4 linked regions of the Homo sapiens genome follow. The protein of the gene in region 3 purifies or fractionates together with the protein of the main gene of each other region. This does not show direct contact. Each region holds a gene or a part of one and is shown on either strand. Other genes may lie near its edges.

The links. The genes of interacting proteins can lie anywhere in the genome.
Region 1: the proteins of CDK11B (region 3) and RTF1 fractionate together in Homo sapiens (co-fractionation; one large-scale study listed by BioGRID). This does not show direct contact.
Region 2: the proteins of CDK11B (region 3) and JADE3 purify together in Homo sapiens (affinity purification with mass spectrometry, with the first as the bait; one large-scale study listed by BioGRID). This does not show direct contact.
Region 4: the proteins of CDK11B (region 3) and SYT1 purify together in Homo sapiens (co-immunoprecipitation; one large-scale study listed by IntAct). This does not show direct contact.

The regions. Positions count from the first base shown.
Region 1 is NC_000015.10:41,462,067-41,465,890, forward strand, and holds part of RTF1 (RNA polymerase-associated protein RTF1 homolog), read left to right. Parts: intron 1-2,704; coding exon 2,705-2,819; intron 2,820-3,824. UniProt on the Homo sapiens protein: Component of the PAF1 complex (PAF1C) which has multiple functions during transcription by RNA polymerase II and is implicated in regulation of development and maintenance of embryonic stem cell pluripotency.
Region 2 is NC_000023.11:46,918,893-46,922,716, forward strand, and holds part of JADE3 (protein Jade-3), read left to right. Parts: intron 1-3,824. UniProt on the Homo sapiens protein: Scaffold subunit of some HBO1 complexes, which have a histone H4 acetyltransferase activity.
Region 3 is NC_000001.11:1,642,005-1,645,907, forward strand, and holds part of CDK11B (cyclin-dependent kinase 11B), read right to left. Parts: intron 3,286-3,903; coding exon of another isoform or gene 3,259-3,285; coding exon 3,122-3,258; intron 505-3,121; coding exon 382-504; coding exon of another isoform or gene 343-381; intron 1-342. UniProt on the Homo sapiens protein: Plays multiple roles in cell cycle progression, cytokinesis and apoptosis. Involved in pre-mRNA splicing in a kinase activity-dependent manner. Isoform 7 may act as a negative regulator of normal cell cycle progression.
Region 4 is NC_000012.12:79,294,746-79,298,569, forward strand, and holds part of SYT1 (synaptotagmin-1), read left to right. Parts: intron 1-1,323; coding exon 1,324-1,491; intron 1,492-3,824. UniProt on the Homo sapiens protein: Calcium sensor that participates in triggering neurotransmitter release at the synapse. May have a regulatory role in the membrane interactions during trafficking of synaptic vesicles at the active zone of the synapse.

The DNA.
Region 1 (3,824 bases), on a different chromosome or scaffold from region 3:
TTTAGTGACTATAAGAATGGTTTAGTGTGCTGATTATTAAGACAGAGGTTCAGAGCCATCATAGAAAATTGATATTTTAGTAGTTCGTTTGTTTAGCTTCAGGGCAGTGCAATATGGAAACTCTGGAATTTCCTGAATCTTTTTTACTTTAAAAGCTCTTTATATGGATTGCATTTAATCTTTGTAGTCTTTTTTATGTAAGCACCATTAGCATCCTGTTCTCTAGCCAGCAGCACCAGTAGTGAGATGTCATTTTCAGTTGTTAGATTATTCATGGGGGCAGGAAGCATAAAAGGTAGCCTGGTTGTAGAAAGGGCACTGACATTGCAGTTAGAAGGTCTAGGGGTCAAGTCAGACTCGCTGGAGGGGTGATCGGAGTTAAATCACTTTCTCTTCCTGCCTCAGCTTCCTCCTGGGGGTTGTTGTAAACCTCAAGAGAGATTATATACATAAGAACATTATGTAAATGTAAACTATCACTAACTCTAAAAAATAACTTTGTTTAAAATAACCCACTTAAAGTGTATAATTCATTGGTTTTTATATGTCCACAGAGTTGTGCAATCATCACCACAATTAATTCTAGAGCATTTTGTCACTCCTGTATTTCCCCATAAGCCTCCCAGCCCTAGGCAACCACTAATCTCCTTTCTGTCTCTCTAGATTTGCCTATTCTGGATATGTTTATTATTATTGTTGTTGTTATCAAGACAGGGTCTCGTTCTGTCACCCAGGCTGGAGTGCTGTGGCATGATTATAGCTCATTGAAGCCTCGACCTCCTGTGTTCAAGCAATCCTCCCACCTCAGCCTCCCAAGTAGCTGGGACTATAGGCGTGTGCCACCACCTGGCCAATTTTTTAAACTTTTATTAAAGAAGAGGTCTCGCTATGTTGTCCAGGCTATTCTTGAACTCCTAGCCTCAAGCAGTCCTCCTGCCTTGGCCTCCCAAAGTGTTTAGATTACAGGCATTAGCCACCATGGCCGACCTGGATATTTTATATAAATGAAATCATAATATGTAGTCTTTTGTGACTGACTTCTTTCACTTAGTATGTTTTTGAGGTTTATCCATTTAGCATGTATTAGTACTTCACTCCTTTTTATGTCTGAGTAATATTCCATTTTATGTATATACCACATTTTGTTTATCTGTCCATCTGTTGATTTATATTTGTGGTGTTTCCTCCTTTTTGCTATTGTGACTGGTGCTGCTGTGAACGTTTATATACAACAATTTGAGTACCTATTTTCAGTTCTTTTGAGTGTATACTGGAAAGTAGAATTGCTGGCTGGTACGGTAACTCTTTCTAACTTTTTGAGAAACTGCAGCTGCATCATTTTAGATTTCCCATCGGCAATAAGTGTACTAGTTTCTCCACCTCTTCACTAACACTTTAACACTTGTCTTTTCCTTTTTTTGTTGTTGTTGAGACAGGGTCTCACTCTGTCGCCCAGGCTAGCTAGAGTTCAGTGGTATGATCATGGCTGGCTGCAGCCTCAATCTCCTGGGCTCAAGCAGTTCTCCCACCTCAGCCTGCCAAGTAGCTGGGACTACAAGCATGTACCACCATGTCCAGCCAATTTTTAAAATTTTTGTAGAGACAGGGTCTCACCATGTTGTCCAGGCTAGTCTCCAACTCCTGGACTCAAGTGATCCTCCTGCCTTGGCCTCCCAAAGTACTGGAATTACAGGTGTGAGCCACCGTGCCTGGCCTCCCTTTTTGTGATAATAGCTATCCTGGTGGGTGTGAAATGGTCTTTCATTGTGTGTTTTTTGTTGTTGTTTGTTTGTTGTTTGTTTTCAAGACGGAGTCTCACTCTGTCGCCAGGCTGGAGTGCAGTGGCGTGATCTTGGCTCACTGCAACCTCCGACTCCTGGGTTCAAGCAATTCTTCTGCCTCAGCCTCCCGAGTAGCTGGGATTACAGGCACATGCCACCATGCCCAGCTAATTTTTGTATTTTTAGTGGAGATGGGGTTTCACCATTTTGGCCAGGATGGTCTCAATCTCCTGACCTCGTGATCCGTCCACCTTGGTTTCCCAAAGTGCTGGGATTACAGGTGTGAGCCACTGCACCGGGCCTGTTTGTTTGTTTGTTTATTTTTTGAGATGGAATCTCACTCTGTCGCCCAGGCTAGAGTGGCGCAGATGAGTACAGCAATACCCTATATATGTTCTCTTTCTCTCTCTTTTTTTTTTTTTGAAACGGATTCTTGCTCTGTCGCTAGGCTGGAGTGCAGTGGCGCGATCTTGGCTCATTGCAACCTCCCTCCCGGATTAAAGCGATTCTCCTGCCTCAGCCTCCCAAGTAGCTGGGACTACAAGTGTGCGCCACCATGCCCAGCTAATTTTTGTATTTTTAGTAGAGACGGGGTTTCACCATGTTGGCCAGGATGGTCTCGATCTCTTGATCCCCCCGCCTCGGCCTCCCAAAATGCTGGGATTACAGGTGTGAGCCCCTGTGCCTGGCCCGTAGTCTCTCATTTTAAACATATTCCAACTTAATGCTATCAAATATTTTATATTTTGTTGTAATTAACATATTAAATATTTTTAATGTACTTAAAAGGTACACCAGAGTTTCTTGCAGGAAAGCCAAAATATCTATTAGCTCCTTTCCCTTAGTTCCTTTCTCCTATCTAATAGAAATCAGTTTTTATATACATTTCATTGCTACTTAAAAACCAAATATCTTTTAACCAGATTTGAAATCAAGAAAAAACTAAAAACAGCCAAAAAGAAAGAAAAGAAAGAAAAGAAGAAAAAGCAAGAAGAGGAGCAAGAAAAGAAAAAACTGACACAGATTCAAGAATCTCAGGTAGGAGATTCAGTGTTCCTCATTGTCCAAAGAATAAACCTGTTTTGAGTGTGTGTGTGTGTGTGTGTGTGTGTGTGTGTGTAAAAGGTGGATTTATATTAATCAGCCTAAGTTTATAAGACTTGTGACATGGTTTCATTAATCTCTGGACATATCACCATTAGCTGTGCTGTTAAATCCTTAGCACTTTTTCCTTTGCTTTCCTTTTTCCTTTTCTTTTTTCTTTCTTCTTTCTTTTTCCCTTTTCTTCCCCTCCCTTCCTCCTTCCCCCTTCCCTTCCTCCTTCCCTTCCTCTTCCCTTTCCCTGGTCTCATTATGTTGCCCGGGCTAGAATACAGTGGCTATTCACTGGCACAGTCATAACACACTGAAGCCTCAAACTCCTAGTCTCAAGCAGTCCTCCTGAGTTGCTGAGACTACAGGCATATGCTACCGTGCCCGGCTTTCACTGAAGTCTGCATTTAAAAAGCAGCCCTCAACTGCAGTGACTCACATGTGTAATCCCAGCACTTTGAGAGGCCGAGGCAGACAGATCACTCAAGGCCAGGAGTTTGAGACCAGCCTGGCCAACGTGGCGAAATCCTGTCTCTACTAAAAATACAAAAATTAGCCTGGCGTGGTGGCTTATGCCTTTAATCCCAGCTACTCGGGGGGCTGAGGCACAAGAATTGCTTGAACCTCAGAAGCGGAGGTTGCAGTGAGCTGAGATCATGCCATGGCCCTCCAGCCTGGGCAGAAGAGCGAGGCTCTGTTTTAAAAAAAAAAAGCAGCCCACTAGTGAGTGACCATCCCTTAAGGAAAAGTTGGTAAACAACCTGTCCTAGGTAGCCAGATGCTTATGATGTTTACTTAGATGTATATCATCCTTTACTTGGTATAAATATAGCTGGGAAAATAATCTCTGTATTTATCATAAATGAGACTCCATCTCAGAAAAACAACAAAAAAAGATAATGTGGGGCTGAGTGTAGTGGCTTATGCCTGTAATCCCAACATTAGCTGTGT
Region 2 (3,824 bases), on a different chromosome or scaffold from region 3:
CTTCTGTGGCCAAGCCCAGAGTCATTGTGGGTGGTGACCATTCAAAGGTGTGGATACAGGGAGATGTGAAAAAATTGGGGGCCATTACTGCAATAATTCATAATAATTAGCAATGAATGTAAGCTGTTAAGCTTTGATAAATCTTGTTAAACACCCATTTCTGAATGTAGTGTATTCTAGAGACTAAATAATGTGATTGTGCCATTGGTAACACCTCTTCCACCAAGTGTGGAATGGAGTGATGGTTTTTCTGGGAAGAAGCCAAAGGCAGACAGTGTGGTTTTGGACATAGATATTCTTGTGAGTGGCTTAACTGCTTTCTGATCTTGTGTGGCTATTATCAAAGGAGTCTCTAGATTTCCTCAACCTTCCATTCAAGCATTATCACGAAAACCCTAGTGTATTAGACTCTACTAGATTTTGTGGTCAAGCCAAAAGACCGTTATTTGGGAACCACCACCACTTAAGAGATGAAAGAAACATTTGCAGTCTTTCCTTGGAACCTTTATATGATTTATAATTTGTACCTAAGAGAGGAAATCCGTATTTGAGCATTGGTAATAAGGACAAGGGATTCTCTGTAAATGTGTTTTAATTGGTTAAGATTTAAAAATCTTCCTGTGGTTGCAGTGAAAAATCCAGCATTGTACTGTGAAGTGAGTGGCCAGGAATTACCAATTTGGGGCATCAGCCTTTGACCTTTGCTTGTGAAGATCTCAGAAGTAACACTTTCCACATAACTGAAATAGGCTTCACAACAGCTTGTGGCCTGAAATATATTACATGAAAATGCAACTGGACCCCAGGAAGTATGTGTGGGAAACTATACAAGGCTCATTTTGTATGTCTTAGAGATGTACATTCCCCCAGAAAATTGCCTGGTGGTAGAATGTTAGCTTTTCTTCTTTCCTCCTAGGATAAAAATTAAAAATCTCTGACATTTTAAAAGTCAGTGACTTGAAAGAGCAATCAAAATTTATAAACACACACATCATTAGACCCCACAAACACTTCCAGGAATTTATTCAACAAATATTTGCATATTAATTGGAGTATTGCTTGTAGTAGCAAAAGATTGGTAATATCCTAAGGGTCAATCAAGAATATTGAAGACACTGATAGTTTTGGAACACGCATGACCAAGCAGGTAGAGGGTGAGAGGGAGACTTTTCACTACATAAACTTTTACGTATGTGTTTTGAATTTTAAGCAATGTGAATATATTTTCTTATTTTAAAAGTTAAATACATTTTTTAAAGAGATGATATATAGTGATGCAAAATTCCATAGACTCCTATCCGAGTTGACCTGATCAGAGCTATTCCTGTTCAAAAAAAATCTAGCCAGTTTTTCCCCCTAGAAATGCCTCACGATAGTGTACTTCTGAATTTTTAACTATAATTCTGCCTTTTCCAGAATATCACATGAGTGGAATCATGCAATATGTAGCCTTTTTTTGGTCTTGCTTTTAGTGGATTCATCCATATTATGTGAATGAATAGCCTGTTCCTTTTCATTACTGAATACTATTCCATTGTATGGATGTACCACAGTTTGTTCATTCACCTGTCGAAGGACGACTTAGTTGTTACCAGTTTTTTGGTGGTTTTCAATAGAGCTGTGGTAAACATTAGTGTACAGATCTCTGTGTGGACATAAGTTTGCAGTTTATTGGGGTAAATACGTAGGAATGGGATTAGTGGATTTTTCTTTGACAGAAATTACCAAACTATGTTCCAAAGTGGTTCTACCATTTTATATTCTCCTGCCATGAATGTGATTCCACGTATGGATGTCTAGTTGTCCCAGCACCACTTGTTGAAAAGACTACCCTTTCTCCATTGAATTGCCTTTGCATATGTGTCAAAAATCAGTTGACTATCCTTCTGTGGATCTATTTCTGGGCTCTCTGTTGCATTGATCTATATATCTATCATTTCTCCATTAACACACAGTCTTGATTATTATAGCTTTATAATAAGCCTAGAAATCAGGTAATAGAGTACTCTGGCTTTTTAAAATCTTTCTCTCAGGGTATGCTTAAGTTACTTTTTAAAAAAATTTTTTTATAGAAACAGGGTCTCACTGTATTGGCCAGGCTAGTCTCAAACTCTTGGTCTTAAGCAGTCTTCCCACTTTGGCTTCCCAAAGTGCTGAGATTACAGGCATGAGCCACCACGTCTGGCTTTTTTTGCTTTTTAAGAGACAGGGTCTTGCTCTGTCACCTAGGCTAGAGTGCAGTGGCCCCATCATAGCTCACTGCAGCCTTGAACTCCTGGGCTCAAGTGATCCTCCTGCCTCAGCGTCTTGAGTAGATGGGGCTATGGGCACATGCCACTATGCCCACCTATTTTTAAATATTTTTTGTGCAGAGATAAGGTCTTGCTATGTTCCCCGGGCTGGTCTTGAACTCCTGCCTCAAGTGATCCTCCTGCTTTGGCTTCCCAAAGTGTTGGAATTACAGGCGTCAGCCACTGCACCTGGCCTGGCTTTTTTCTTCTTTTTCAGAGTTGTAGTGGTGAGAGAGGACATCCTTAACTTGTTCCAATCTTGGAAAGCATTCCATCTCTCACCATCAAGTATGATGTTGTAGGATTTTTTTTTAATATACTGTGTTGTGCAGAAAAGAGTTAACATAGCAGACCTGAGGCTGCTGTCTTTAGAAGGCCAACGTGCACGATTGGCCCTTAGCTGGTGTTTGGGAAATTGGCTTTTCAAATGTTTAAAAAGAAAAGATTATATTCTACCTTCATTTATTCCTTTTCCAATGCTTTTCATTTCTTTATGGTAATCCAGGTTTCCTACCTTGATCACAGTCTTTCTGCTTAAAGAATCCCCTTTAACCTATCTTTTGAGGGCAGATCTGCTGGCAGTAAATTCTCTGTTTTTGGTTGTCTGAGAAAGTTTTCATTTTCCTTCACTTTTGAAAGGACACTTTTGTGGGTTGACAGTTGTTTTTCCTCTTTCAACATAGTACTCCACCATTGCCTGGCTTACGTGATTTCTGATGAGAAGGCTGCTGTAATCCTTTTTTTTTTTTTTAATACCTTAAGTTCTGGGATACATGTACAGAATGTGCAGGTCTGCCACATAGGTATATATGTGTCATGGTGGCCCGCTGCACCCATCAACCCGTCACCCACTTCAGGCACCTCTCCCAATGCTATCCCTCCCCCAGTCCCCCATCCCCCAACAGACTCCAGTGTGTGATGCTCCCCTCCCTGCGTCGATATGTTCCCATTGTTCGACTCTCCCACCCATGAATGAGAACATGTGGTGTTTGGCTGTCTGTTCCCGCGTTAGTTTGAGGCTGCTTTAATTCTTATCCTTGTTCCTCCATAGTTAATGTGTCTTTTTTCCTCTGACTACTTTGAAGATTTTCTTTTTGTCTTTGGTTTTCAGCAGCTTGAATATGATATGCCTAATTGTGGCTTTTAAAATTTTTTCATTTTTGTCCTGCTTTGTGTTCTCTAAACTTTATTATATCTGTGGTTTGTTGCCTGTCACTAATTTTGGAAAGTTTCTCAGCCATTATTTCTTCAAATAATTCTATCTTGTTCTTTTTTTTTTCTCTTTCTGGGATTCTAATTACAAGTGTGTTATACTGTTTGTTATTGCCCCACAGTTCTTGAGTGCTCTTCAGTATTTTCATTCGTCTCTTTTTAATTTTTATTGACTGATCAATAACCTTGATCTTCAAGCTCACTGAGTCTTTCCTTGGCTATGTCAAGTCTACTGTTCAGCCCATTGTTTTTCTTACTGTTTTTTTTTTAATTTCTAGCATTTCCCTTTGATTCATTCTTACAGTTTCTATCTCTTTGCTG
Region 3 (3,903 bases):
ATGAGATAAACCATAAAGGTGAATTTGGGGAAATGTTTTTAAACAAACAAGCTACCACCACCCCAAAACTAGTGCCTTTCACGTAACGATTAACTTTGCTTGGTCGGAAACCAGCTCATCCAGAGACGCTGGAAGCCACTTCTCTAACGGGGCCAGTGGCGAATGTCCCAGCGGATAAACACACGTCCTGTGTCCTGGCCGCACACAGACACTCACGGTCCCTCTCACGACACGAGAGGACTTCAGCCAGCACATCTCTCACTTTCTTCTGAAGCGGTTACTTAGCTGGGCTTTAAATGAATCCTACACACTTATGCCAAACATCCCCCAGAAAAGACTCACACTGTGCTGGCTTCTGCGCAGGCGCCGGCCTGGCCTCACCTGGCTTCCGGCCGTCTCCCAACTCGAACCGCTCCCGCGGCGGCCGAGGCGGGCTGCGACTCCAGTGGCTGGCTTTCACTTTGTCGCTGTAGTCCTCTCTCATCGTTCGGTGATGTGCAGACACTGGCGCGCAGGGCAGAGAGGGAGATGGCACTAGCAGCACTGCCTTCCTCAAAAGGCCCCACCCGGCACAGCTGCCTCGTCTCCCACACCCGCACCTGGCAGACACACCCACAGCGTGCACAGGGTGCTGACAGCATCGGGGTCAGAGGCCAGAGGTCTCCCAGGAAGCCCAGGGAGAAAAAGCTCCAACCTGGAGGCCGTGAGCCCGAGGACCCAGGTGGACCTTCTAGACTGATCTTCACTGGTCAAAAAGGAAGGGGCGGGAGAAGATTCTGGAAAGATGGAGTAGGAAGCACTGGGAATCAGTCTCCCCACCGAGACAACACTTGCATCACAGGATCAGGCCTGTGCAACTACTGAGGTGCTCTGGAGTCTACTGAAGGTTTGCAACTTCAGGGGGAATCTTGGAGAGTAAACTGTGATTCATTAATCAACGTCACCGCTTCGCACATTAGTGGCTCCCACCTCACTCCCCGCTGGCAGGCAGCAGCCTGCATGCAGCTCGCCGGACCCAGGTGGGCAGACGGACACACACACCCGAGGTCAGTGTGATGACTGCGTGTCCCACCCCAGAGGCATGAAGAGGCAGCAGCCACGGCCACCCCCAAGCTGAAGGTACTTCCAGGGCATGAGCACCACGTCCCCCGTTGCCCCCTTCATTTCTCTCTATTCCCCCTTTAGGAGGCAGACACTTCAGGACAAGAACATTAAAAACATCTGTATTGACGGGAACGTTAAAAAGTGGCTGCACGTGACCAGGAAAAGGCTCAGGCTCAGAAAAGACCCGTGAAGACCCTGAGTTTCCACAACAGGCCGACCCCACAGACACAGCCCAGCACAACCAAAACAACAAGTGCACACCCTTGAGTGGGGACCAGGAAGAATCACATCATGAGAATCAAATGTCCATTTTTTTGACTAAGAAAAACACAAGAGAAACAAAGAAATAGGACAGTATGTCCCATTCAGAGGGGAAAAAAAGAAGCCAACAGACACGGTTCCTGAAAATCACCTGACGGTAGATGTCCCAAAGACTTTAGGGAACTGTCTTAACCTTCAGTTCCTCAGAGAACGAAAGGAAGATGTGGAGAAAGTCAAGAAAATGACGCGTGAACACGACGGAAATATCAACAGAGACAGAAGATCCAACAAGAAACCAGAGAGAAATTCCAGAGCTAATAAGTACATGCTCACAATAGACACTAAAAAGTAAATATTCACAACAGAAACTCACAGGCAGATGTGAGCAGGCAGAAGAAATAATCGGTGAGCCTGAAGACAATAAAATCACATCGTCTGAGGAAAAGAAAGCAGAAGAGACTGAAGAAAAGGGAGCAGTGCTGAGCGGCCTCGGGGACCCCAACAGATCTGTGGGAGCCCAGGAGGGAGGAGAGGAGCAGAGAGGGTATCTGAAGAATTCCTCAAAACCCCCACATTGGATGAAAACCGTAAATATAAACATTAGAGAGGCTCAGTGAACTCCAGGTAGAATGAAGTCAAGAGGCCCACAGGAAAACCCATTATTAAACAGTTGAAAGCCTAAGGCAAAGAGAATCTTCAAAGCATCCAAGGGATCCTCAATCAGGTCATCAGATTAAAGCATCCAAGGGATCCTCTATAAGATCATCAGATTTCTCATCAGAAACTTTGGAGGCCAGAAGACAATGGGCTGAAATAGTCCAAGTGAAAAGGAAAAACTGTCAGCTAGGCATGAGGGTTCCTTGAGCCCAGGAATTCAAGACCAGCCTGGGCAATACAGGGACACCTTGTTTCTACTGAAAAATGAGCCAGGTGTGGTGGCACACGCTACGCCTGTAGGTCCCAGCTACGCGGGAGGCTGAGGTGGGAAGATCACTTGTGCCCAGGAGTTCGAGGTTGCAGTGAGCTATGATCGCTCCACTGCACTCCAGCCTGGGCAACAGAAGAAGACTCTGTCTCAAAACAACAACAACAAAATTGTCAACCAAGAACCACGTATCCAGCAAACTTTCCTTCAAAGATGAGGGAGAAATGAGGATATTCTCAGATAAACAAAAGCAGAGGGAGTTCATTACTACTAGACCTAGACCTGCCTTGAAGAATAAGCTCCAGGGAGTTGTGTGGGGTGTAAGGAAAGGACGCGAGACAGAAACCGGAAGCTGGGTGAAGAAATAAAGATCTCCATTAAGGTGAGGACGTGGGTGACTATAAAAGCTCGTACTGGCCGGCCGCGGTGGCTCACGCCTGTAATCGCAGCACTTTGGGAGGCCGAGGTGGGTGGATCACGAGGCCAAGAGATCAAGAGACTATTCTGGCTAACACGGTGAAACCCTGTCTCTACTAAAAATATAAAAAAATAGCTGAACATGGTGGCGGGTGCCTGTAATCCCTGCTACTCCGGAGGCTGAGGCAGGAGGATCACTTGAACCCGGGAGGCAGAGGGTGCAGTGAGCCGAGATCGCGCCACCGCACTCCAGCCTGGGGGACAAGAGCAAAACTCTGCCTCCAAAAAAAAAAAAAAGGCAGGGGCGAAAAGCAAGCACCGGAACCAAGCGCCCGCCTGTGACAGCAAGTGCCCAGCACCAGGGGGCAGCAGACACGCGTCCCGCCGAGCACAGCTGCCCACCGCGCCGCCTACCTTCCCTGCGGGCCTCCCGCTCCTTGCGCCGCTCCTCTGCCCGCCGCTCGCGCTCCTTCTGCTCCCGCTGCTCCTTCTGCTGCTCCCGCATCTTGCGCTCCCGCTCCCGCTTCCTTTCTAACTGCTCCAAGCGGTCCCTGAAGAGGCACACGCCATCATTCCCCCTAAACAGAAGCTTGCTTATCGCGTTTTTGTCCACATTTGTAAACTGGCTTTCTACGTAATTCAATCCGTGAAGTTTTTTTTTCATTTTTTTATTTTATTTTCTTTGAGACGGAGTCTTCATCTGTCCCCCAGGCTGGAGTGCGGTGGCGCGATCTCGGCTCACTGCAACCTCCGCCTCCCGGGTTCGAGCGATTCTCCTGCCTCAGCCTCCCGAGTAGCTGGGATTACAGGCGTGCGCCCTGTACTCCCAGCTAATTTTTGTATTTTTAGTAGAGACGAGGGTTTCACCATGTTAGCCAGGATGGTCTCAATCTCCTGACCTCGTGATCCGCCTGCCTCCGCTTTTCAAAGTGCTGGGTTTACAGGCCCGAGCCACCGTGCCCAGCTGCCATTTCCAATTCTAATTAATAAATGATCCATTTCTTTCCATTCGATCGGTGTTTGCTTCATGGATTTTGGGCTCTGTGGTTAGATGCATTCACACGTATCATTGCTGTATCTTCCTGCTGTATTGGCCTGTTTCTGGCTGTGAAGTCCTTGCTCCTTCTTGTTTCTAGCTTTTTTTTGAGACAGGGTCTTGGTTTGTCACCCAGGCTGGAGTGCAGTGGCGCAATCTC
Region 4 (3,824 bases), on a different chromosome or scaffold from region 3:
TAGCAAACAAAGAGACAGACTGTTTCCTTTACTAATCATGTCTTTATAATCCGATGCCTATTTTAGCTGTTTTTTGACCATCTGTCTGTGTTTTGTTTACCTACAATCTAGCACTCTTATTGCCACTGTTGTATCATGATTCCACAAAAAAAAAAAAAGATATTGAAGCATTAAAATAGAAACAACATAATCATTCAGGTTATTGGGCCATGTTAAAAGTTGAGCCACCTAGCCAAAATGCACTTAAGTACACGGTGGGTCACAATTAAAATGGTTATGCATTTTTTTTAAGAGGGGGAATTGCTTTTTTACTCTACTAGCTAAAAAGGCATGAACTCAGATTTTTCAGGCTGAGATGTAAAAACCTATGGTGTTACTGCATTTACAAAATAGCATATACCTTGAATAACAGTAAGAGTCTGCTTTGTTACCTATATGGATCTAAATCAGTCTGTTGACACAAAATCTCTAATGGCAGAGTATCTATGATAGTCTACTCACACCTCTTTTTTTCTTCGCAAAAATATTAACCATACCATAATACCTTAATATTCATAATGAGGCTTAAGAATGCATCAGTAAGAAAACAGACTTAAAGAAATGTAATAGTTCTGTGGTGTTTGGAAAAAATAAAAAACACAGTTACTCACCATTAAAAAACCTCACCTCTAATCTCCCTTGCTTTCTATGAAGCTGAAATTACATTTCTTTTACTCCGTGTCCTATATTTAAACACAGAATCTCATAGATAATAATCATTCTACTGTAAGTTAAAATAAATGTAGTCTGCACACCAGTGAAGGTCAAATATAATAGAAACTAGAAGATCTTATTTTTTATCTCAAAATGCTACCCAATTTCTAAGAAATTTCTACTCAGCTAGCCTGAGGCTTTGATAAAGAATAAAAGTTTCCCACTTTGTAATTACAAACTTGTGATTGCTTAACAATGCATTTTCACTTACAAATCATGCTCTGGAAAGAAAAACAATGCACAAGAGCTTTTAGCAACTGGAAAGTTATTTGATTACAACTCTTTTGCAAAAATGAACTCCATATTTAACTGCAATCAGCAACCTTTTAAAAGCCTCTTTTGTGCTTAAAACCAGGCTTCCCAGAGCCTGCATCAGTCATAATTGGGTTTCTGAAGTCTACATAGCTCAGTTCATTTGCCTTCTGTGTTCAGATTCATAAGAGAATCAGAGTTTTATTAAAAATAAATAGGAAGAGGGAGAAATCCCAATATGCAGCATTGTGAACAAATCGATCTTTTCCAAAATGTCCACTGATATTTATGTATGCTGTATTCTGTCATTTATTTCAGCTGCTGGTAGGGATCATTCAGGCTGCCGAACTGCCCGCCTTGGACATGGGGGGCACATCTGATCCTTACGTGAAAGTGTTTCTGCTACCTGATAAGAAGAAGAAATTTGAGACAAAAGTCCACCGAAAAACCCTTAATCCTGTCTTCAATGAGCAATTTACTTTCAAGGTATTTGTTAACATTTATTTATAACCTTTCCTTTGTTGTTTTACTTAAAAGACTGATCTCATCCTGACACATACATAGACATGCACATGAATGCTTGTTCAGGCACTCACAATAATTCCAGTCAGAATATGCAAAATTCTTATCTTCACTACAGTCAACATTCGATATTGCCTTTCAGCGTGTTCAGAGTAGGATTCGGTTCAGTCATTTCAGAATGGAATGGACTAGAACATGACTAGGATGTCATAGTCACATCTAAAAAGTGAGATCCCTCCCTGAAATAAAGCCAAAGGAATGAAATCATTATTTTTCTGAATTTCAAAGTTTGTGAAAATAAGTACATCTGTTACAATCCCAGGATTAAGTAAGCTGTGTCCCAATGCTTAAATGGTACAAATAGACATGACTCTTGTAACAAAATTGTGTGTGTAGAGGGCAATTTGAGCACTTCAAAGTCATTCTTCTTAACTAATCAATAAAAGGAATATGAACATATTTTTTATTGCATTTCTAGCCTTCTTCCTTTACTCTAGGTTCTGCCCTGATGTTCTTCATCTTGTTGAGGCACCTCAGTTGACAAACAACAGAGAGATTCCAGCCATATAATATCTCATCAGGAAAACATGTCCTGCAGGTCTCCAGGATCTTCGTGGATCTTGGCTTGAAATCATTCATTAAAAACAATTCTTTTGGTGGATATCTTTAACGTGCGAAAAAAACTTTTTAATGCATTACTTAGAACAATATGTTTCTGAAAAATGAAATATCTGTGAATATGCCAGCAGGCTAATTCAAAATCACCACGTCCATCAGCCAGGCTTAGCATATGCCTTGTGTTGGCAAACATTCTGGGATGAAATAAATTGAAAATGAGGGCATGAGTCATTTTCTCAAACCTTGTTTTCAATTATGTAAAGGGGAAGTGTCTTTCTATTCACTCTAAAATTTCTGAGTTTTCAAGACAAAGGTCCCTCATGTATTGTCAGTAATCTTATTTAAAATCTGGTTTTTCTGTACCTAAGCAGTGAATTTAAAGTAGCAGTAAAGACATTCTGGAAATACTCAGTTCATGAAGAGTATCTGCTCATGAAGCTTAATCACTATAGTCAACATACTACGAAACGTAAAATGGAAATAAAATTTTAAAAATATTGTAATAGTAATCACAGTTGTTTTATTCATCTATTTATTAACCTTAACTTAGGTCAGCAGTTTCTGACCAAAACTTAGTAAGGAAATTCTTAAATTATATGAGCTAATGTATTGGGGCTTTGTTTTGTATTGCATTACCTACATTATTATTTCTTTAAAAAATGCTAATAATTTTATTAGTAATTTCTATAAAACCAAGTATAATTATTGAAATTTTTGAATTCTCTATACATTTTTATCAAGTTTCATTTTATTTCAGAAAGGTTGATCAAACTATACATAAATCCAAAGTATAATATATTCTGCTATATTAAAAAATACTTCAATTTTTCTAGAGAACTGGTTAGACATTGTAGATTACTCATCTTGAAATGCCAAGAGGCAATATGATACAGGAATGGAAGTATAAAAGACTTTAAAGAAGCCTGGCTTTACAATGGATTTAAATCACTTAACAGGAACTCAACATGCCCCAAATTAATTCATCTTCTTTTCCCCCAAAACAGTTATCTGAAGGAGCTACTAATCATTCAAACAATAAATATTTTTAAGTGCTTCTTCTGTGCTAGGTGTTTTACATATATTCATTCATCCCTAAAATAGCCCCATGAAGCAGCCATTATTACAGTATTATCACAATTTAATAGATGAATAAACTTATGTTTAATCACGTGCCCCAGGCCCTTTAGTTGGAAAGTCCAAATCTGGTACAAGGTCTGTCTGACCCCAAGTCCAGGTTTTTGACTGTTGCTCTTTGAGTACAATCACTAGAAAGTCTAGAGAGATTTTAGATATACAATAACATTTTCAAGGGTTTATCCTTACTCTAAAAAATTTTGTTTCTTTCTTTGAGAGTCAGCTCTTTGGAAGGGTTTATTTTCCATTCCTTCTAAAATGGAAAAAGGATGATGCTTACTTTTTAATCATATCATTTTAATAAAATAATCAGGTTCCAAACAGATGGTAAATAAATGACAGAAAAGAAAAACTCTTTGGAAAACTAAAATTTCTTGTATGTAGATGGCCCAATATTCTTCCTTTTCTTCCCTCCTTAATATACAGAGTTAATTGAGAAATGTTTGCTGAAGCATAAGACAACCATTTACACTGATAAAATAATAGGAAGTGTATGAAAATTGATCAAACCTTTAAGACAAGTCTAAACAATTTCTTAATTAGGT